2 separate regions of the Homo sapiens genome follow, and region 2 is linked to region 1. The links come from fine-mapping of genetic effects on gene expression. A gene starts in region 1. The other region holds a variant in brackets. All regions are shown on one strand. Distances are between the middles of the regions. Region 1 holds the start of TECPR1 (tectonin beta-propeller repeat containing 1). Region 2 overlaps BHLHA15 (basic helix-loop-helix family member a15).

Evidence for each region.
Region 2: its variant is fine-mapped to the expression of TECPR1 in esophagus muscle (GTEx, PIP 0.99).

Annotation. Positions count from the first base shown.
Region 1 is chr7:98,250,679-98,253,578 of GRCh38, forward strand. It overlaps TECPR1 (tectonin beta-propeller repeat containing 1), which reads right to left and starts at 1,554. Exons shown (of 26, transcript NM_015395.3): 1 at 1,448-1,554; 2 at 716-870. LOC124901706 (a long non-coding RNA gene) reads left to right here and starts at 1,681. Exons shown (of 2, transcript XR_007060448.1): 1 at 1,681-1,850; 2 at 2,206-2,900. RefSeq lists an enhancer at 1,201-1,944 and silencers at 1,261-1,650, 1,741-1,840.
Region 2 is chr7:98,215,381-98,218,280 of GRCh38, forward strand. BHLHA15 (basic helix-loop-helix family member a15) reads left to right here. Exons shown (of 2, transcript NM_177455.4): 2 at 1-77. It overlaps TECPR1 (tectonin beta-propeller repeat containing 1), which reads right to left. Exons shown (of 26, transcript NM_015395.3): 24 at 2,556-2,662; 25 at 2,312-2,431; 26 at 1-2,123. The coding sequence ends at 2,010. Among named protein-coding and RNA genes, the nearest start is that of BHLHA15, 5.4 kb to the left of the region's middle. The variant C/G (reference allele first, on the strand shown) is at 1,211.

The sequences.
Region 1 (2,900 bases):
AGATAGCTCAGAATTCACTGGATAAGCAAGCAGTTTAGCTAGACTCAGTCTGCAGGTTGAGCTCAATGAAAGGAGATTTTGACTTTCCTTCAAATAAATGACTAAGCACTAATTTCCTCATAGACATCATTGAATCTTCTGGGCAGTTAATGGGAGAAGACTCTGCTACAGTGAAAGGGAGGGGTGGGGGGTTGCTGTATTTACAAACTCCCTTCAGAGTAGAGACCCAGGCACCTGTCGTCACTTCCTAGCTACAGTTGACATCCGGTAACCATCCTTGGTCAGCCACACTTTCTTTCTGCCTCTGCCAAGAGGCTCCCCCTAGCTCCTCATGGGCCACTTTCTGGCTGTGAGCTGATCAGGCAACTTACACAGGGTCACTGGGTCAGAGGACTCTTGAAAGGGGGGTTGGAACATGAAGCCCCATGATTCAGGGATCCTGGGACTTGTTTGTTTTGTAGGGTTAGAGGGATGGAGGAAAATCTTCCAAATCAGCAGCCTCGAATTCACCAAGAATTTCTACAAGATGAATTTGAGTTGAACCTTCAGTCTTTCCACGAAGAAGGTCTGCTCGCCACCCTCAAAGCCATCTGCCTTTCTGTCTCAGTTTATTCACAGATCCTTTCAGAGACCAAAAAAAGCACCCAAGAGAGGCGGGGACAGAGATGTGGTAGAGGAAAAGACACAGTACAAAGAACGCTCCGCAAGCACTTACTTCCTCTGAGCCTTAGGAGTCCTACCTAAAAGGTTTCTTGCTTGTTTTTCTATTACACTGTCACTCCCATCCGGTATGCAAACAGTCGGCAATGCCTACTACAGTAGCTCGCTGGCTGCCAGGTGCAGGGGCTGTTCAAAAGCGACATCAGGGTCCTAAAAGGTGGGAAAAAGCAGCAGAACTTGCATGGTAGTTGATTCTTTCCTGAAGAATAGGGTCCGCCCAGCCCCACCGGGCAGGAGGTGTCCTGAGTCAGCCTGGCGTTCAGCCCAGTGCTGTGCACTTGGGTGACAGGTGGGGCCCCTGCACTGCCACCAGTAGCATATGTCGGAGCTCTGGGCCCTGACCATCTGCCAAAGCTAATCTTACGACAAGCAGATTTGCTCCCATCAATACCCAGGGAGAGGGATAGGCAGGCCCCTTGCTGCGTGATTCTCGAAAACAACCAGGATCCCGCGATCCGCTTCTCCTATGGCTCCAGTCCAAAGGCTGGAATGGGGGCGTCACCTGCACCAGGCAACTTCGCTAGCCTGTGGGCGTTCCAGGGCAGGGGACGGGGGCGGCACCTTCCAGGTGTGCAGGCGAGATGACAAGTGCGGTCCCTCCTTCCTCCCTCCCCGCGAGCAAACAGCCTGGGGGTGGTGGGGAAGGCGGCGTGCCCAGCCCTTCATCGCCCCATTCTTTCCCACGGCCCTGGCCGCCGCTGCAGCTGGGGCGCCACTCTGCACTCACCTGGGCCCGCGCCGGGCGGGGCGAAGTCGCGGTGGTAGGTCCTCGGCGTCCGGGAGGAGCGGACCGGCCCTCCCGGGGACCGGGCAAGAGGGTGGGCCGGAAGCGGCATCAGGCCCCGTGCCCATTGGCCAGCCTCGCCAGGACGCTGCGACCTGGGACGTGCGATTGGCTGCGGTGCGCCGCGTCGGTGCTGGCTTCGAGGTCGCGCGCCCGCCCACTTCCGGGGTCGCGCCAGGTCAGGAGTCCAGAGTCGGCTGAAGCGAGTTGCCGCGTTCTCTCTGGCGGCGCGACACCGGCCCGTGGACCGCCCGGCCGCCCTCCAGGACCCGGTCTGCAGGAGCGGAGAGGGCGGTGTGGACACCGCCTGCAGGCGAGGAGAAGGGGTGGCGGAGAGGGTACCTGGGTGCGTGGCTGTGCGGCGTCAGGAGGAGCAGGGTGTGGGCGCCCGGCCTGGGGCGTGGAGAGGACGCAGGGAACAGGTGTCTTCCTGGTATCCATCGAACTGAAACGTAGCCCTTGAGCACACACTACACTTAAAGCTTTACTCTTTCGAGGAGGAGTCCTGGAAGCATATGTGATTTTGTGACTATAGCATGGTGTGGTGTCAGTAACAGGCCCTGGATTGCTCAAACTCTATTGTCAGTGACAAAACCCAGTGTAAGCTGGCCTAATATATTAATAGTAATATGCGAGTCCTCCCGGGGTGGCGGGCACTGACGTAAGTGCTTTACTTGGGTCTTCTCATTTCATCCTCCCAGCAACCCAAAGAGCTGGCGGCGTCATTCCCATTTTACAAATGCGAACACGGGCTCAGAGATGGAGCGACTCACGTTGTAAGCGATGGAACTGGGATTTGAAAACACTGTATCCCGCCTGGCAGAAAACTGGCAAGGTTAGGATGGAGAAAGGAGAAAAAAGAAAGATGTCGGCCAGGTGCGGCGGTTCATACCTGTAATCCCAGCACTTTGGGAGGCCAAGGCGGGCGGATCACTTGAGGTCAGGGGTTTGAGACCAGCCTGGCCAAGATGGTGAAACCCCGTCTCTAGTAAAAATGCAAAATTAGCCAGGGGTGGTGGCGCATGCCTGTAATCTCAGCTACTCGGGAGACTGAGGCAGGAAAATCGCTTGAACTGGGGAGGTGGAGGTTGCAGTGAGCTGAGATCGTGCCACTGTGCCACCGCACTACAGCCTGGGCGACAAGAGCAAAACTCCTTCTCAAAAAAGAAAAAAAAGGGCATCTGATGGAAGGCTAGATACTACCCGACATTGAGCTAAACCAATGTCACCTGGTTGGACCTAGGGACCTATTCCTGCTCCCCCTCTAGTTCTGTCTCATTTCTGGGGTTGCACACAGGCTTTTCCTGGGCCTTCATGTTTGGGGAAGCCCCACACAGGCCAGCTCCAGTGGAAGAAAACGCCCCCAGAAGCCTCTTGTTCACCCCGGATGGCTCTG
Region 2 (2,900 bases), 35 kb before region 1:
TTTCAAAGTATTCATGAAATTGATGCTGTGTCATAAAACAAAAATAAAAGATTTCACAGCAATGTCTGCTTCAGGCACACGGGGAACCACGCGTTTTAATCAACGTATCGATAAAAAACACCAGGGCACGGACACTCCAGGGGAAATGCTTATTGAGTAAAGTATCCGAGGAAGTGATGCAGGGCAGGTAAACAGCTGGTGCTCAGCAGCGAGAGGACGCGTCACTCTGCCGTTCTGCAGGGTGACGCCCTCCCCGTACCTCGCTGAGAGCCACCTGCAGACACAGCAGGCCACAGCAGAATGCACAGGTCACTGTTGTAGGGGAACAAATCGTAATGCCCAGAGAAAACCTGATAGTGAAATGTAAACAGACAGGACAGGGTGGTTCCAGGTGGCCACCACCGCCAGGCCCTTCCCGTGATTGATCTGAGAGCTTCACAGCCGGCGGCACTGGGACCCATTTCCAGAAACACTGGAACACCAGGTCTCTCAGATGCCCGCGGGAGGGGCCCCAGGGAGGCCTTTCTCAGCATCAGCTTTTGGGTGACAAACCCCATACAGCAAAACTGTACAAATACACACAACGGACCCCCAGCTGACAGTGAGACCAGGACCCTAGGAAGGTCAGGTGGTGGTGAAGTCATCCCCTCTCCAACCGAGCAGAGCCTGGGGTTGGGCTCTGATGACCTCCCGGGCAAAGTGTCCAGGTGGAGGAAGCAAACTCCCAAATGGGGCACAGAGGTAATAAAAAGCAGCTGAGAGACTGCGGGATGGGGTCGGGGCCACTTGGCCGACACCTTCTGCCTCGCCTGGCCGGGCCGGGCCAGCCTCTCGCCACAGGATGGAGGGTGACTGTGCACCCTGCTCCATGTACAGGACGGGCTGAGGGTCCCATGGCCACTGCCGACAGACACAGTAGTACTGCTCCCCACAGAAGCCCGCAGTCTGCACCCTCCTACAACATGATTTGACATCCAAGAAGCCCCTGTCACCAGCGCATCTGGGGAAGGGGCCGAATGGGGGTTGATGATGGTGACTGCACACACGGACACTGCCTCCAGCCATGGGGCAGCCTCTCATCCTCTCCCAGCCTCCCGTCTGGTACCCCGGCCCCCTCAGGGAAGAGGACATCCCATCCACTCCAGTGTTATTTCCAATCTGCTGTCTCCTTCCTTCACTTTTTTTTTTTTTTTTTTTTGAGATGGAGTCT[C/G]TGTCGCCCAGGCTGGAGTGCAGTGGCATGATCTCGGCTCACTGCAGCCTCCGCCTCCCGGGTTCAAACGATTCTCCTGCCTCAGCCTCCCGAGTAGCTGGGATTACAGGCACCCACCACCATGCCCAGCTAATTTTTTTTTTTTTGTATTTTTAGCAGAGATGGGGTTTCACCATGTTGGCCCGTCTGGTTTGAAACTCTTGACCTAGGTGATCTGCCCACCTCAGCCTCCCAAAGTGCTGGGATTACAGGCGTGAGCCACGGCGCCTGGCCTCCTTCCTTCACTTTTGAAATTAAAGCCTCTTTGCAAGTCCTGCTCTGAGAAATGGTCACTGCACATGGTAAAGAGGCCCTGAGCCCCATGGCCATCTCTCTTGGTGAGGGGTGGCGGGCCCGGGTGCTGTCTGAGATGCCAGCTCAGGAGGGCTCCATCCTGGCTCTGCTGCCCCAGGGCCGGCGTTCCCGGAGGGCTCCAGGTTCCCGGTTCTAGTCCTGGAAAGGCAGAAGGGAGAGGGGAAGGGAAGGGTGGGAGGGGCCTCTGGGAGGTGCAGCCCCACCCCATGCCCCACACCCCGGGACTCCTCGCAGACGGGGACACGTGTGGGAGTGTCCGCGGAGCTTCACATTTCAGGGCCGTCTCAGCCAGTGCCTCTGAAGTGGCCGCAGCCTTGGGGCCAGGTTCCCTCCTGAGTCCACCTGGGCCACATTGCTCCCACGGTGCACACTCCAGCACAAGAATGGCTCAGCCTTGATCCCCCAAACTGGGCACCGTCCCTGCATGTAGGTGTGTGGGGGGGCCTCAGCAGCAGACGGGGCCATGGGCCTCTGGTGGGGCACTCGGCTCCTGCTCCTGGGACGAGCTCCGGGGGGCCCTGGTGGCATTGGCCCGGACAGAGATATGGTCCCAGCCTCCCTGGAAGGAGAGAGCTGTGTCACCAGGGGACTCGGGGACTCGAGGATCCTGGAGGGGATCTGCCTGGGGGCCTCCCTGCAACCCAGACACCGGGTCCCAGGGGACAGTCCCACAGTGGTCGTCCCGTCTTCAGCACCCAGTGCAGGCACAAGGTGATAACACAGCCCAAGGCCGCGGGCCCCGCTCACCCCGATGCCGTAGTCCCAGCCGTGGCCCTTGGGCTCGTGAGGCTGCACGCCGGTGCGATGACACACTGTCCCCCGGCTCAGGCTGTGGCTGCCCTGCACTTTGTTGGCGATCACCCAGACCTGGAGCACAGACCCCATGAAGCCCTCAGCCCTACCTGCAGTGGGACGGCTGGGCATGGGATGGGGGAGACCAGAGAGGGAACCAGAGCACCCCAAGTGCCCGATACCCCCTGAGCACCCCCACCTGGTCCAGGGGCCCCACGGACACTCGGCACACGTTGTTGGACACGTGCTCCCAGCTGGAGCCCTGCGGGTAGCTGGGCGTGATCCCTTGGCGATACCACAGGTTTCCTGGGGAGAAAAGCAGTGAGGGTCAAAGGGGAAGACCTTCCCGGCCCCTCCTGCCCGTGCGGCCCGGCAGCCGGTGGCCAGGCCCCGCTCTAACCACTTCGGGGTTTGGGAAGCTGCTGGGGAGGCAGGAGGGTCCTGGCCCCTGAGTCAGGGCCACAGCCTCCTCCGCTTCTCCACACTCAGGAGCCTGGGCTGCAGCCAGCTCCGCCTTCTGCACACTCGGGGCGTCCCCCGAGCC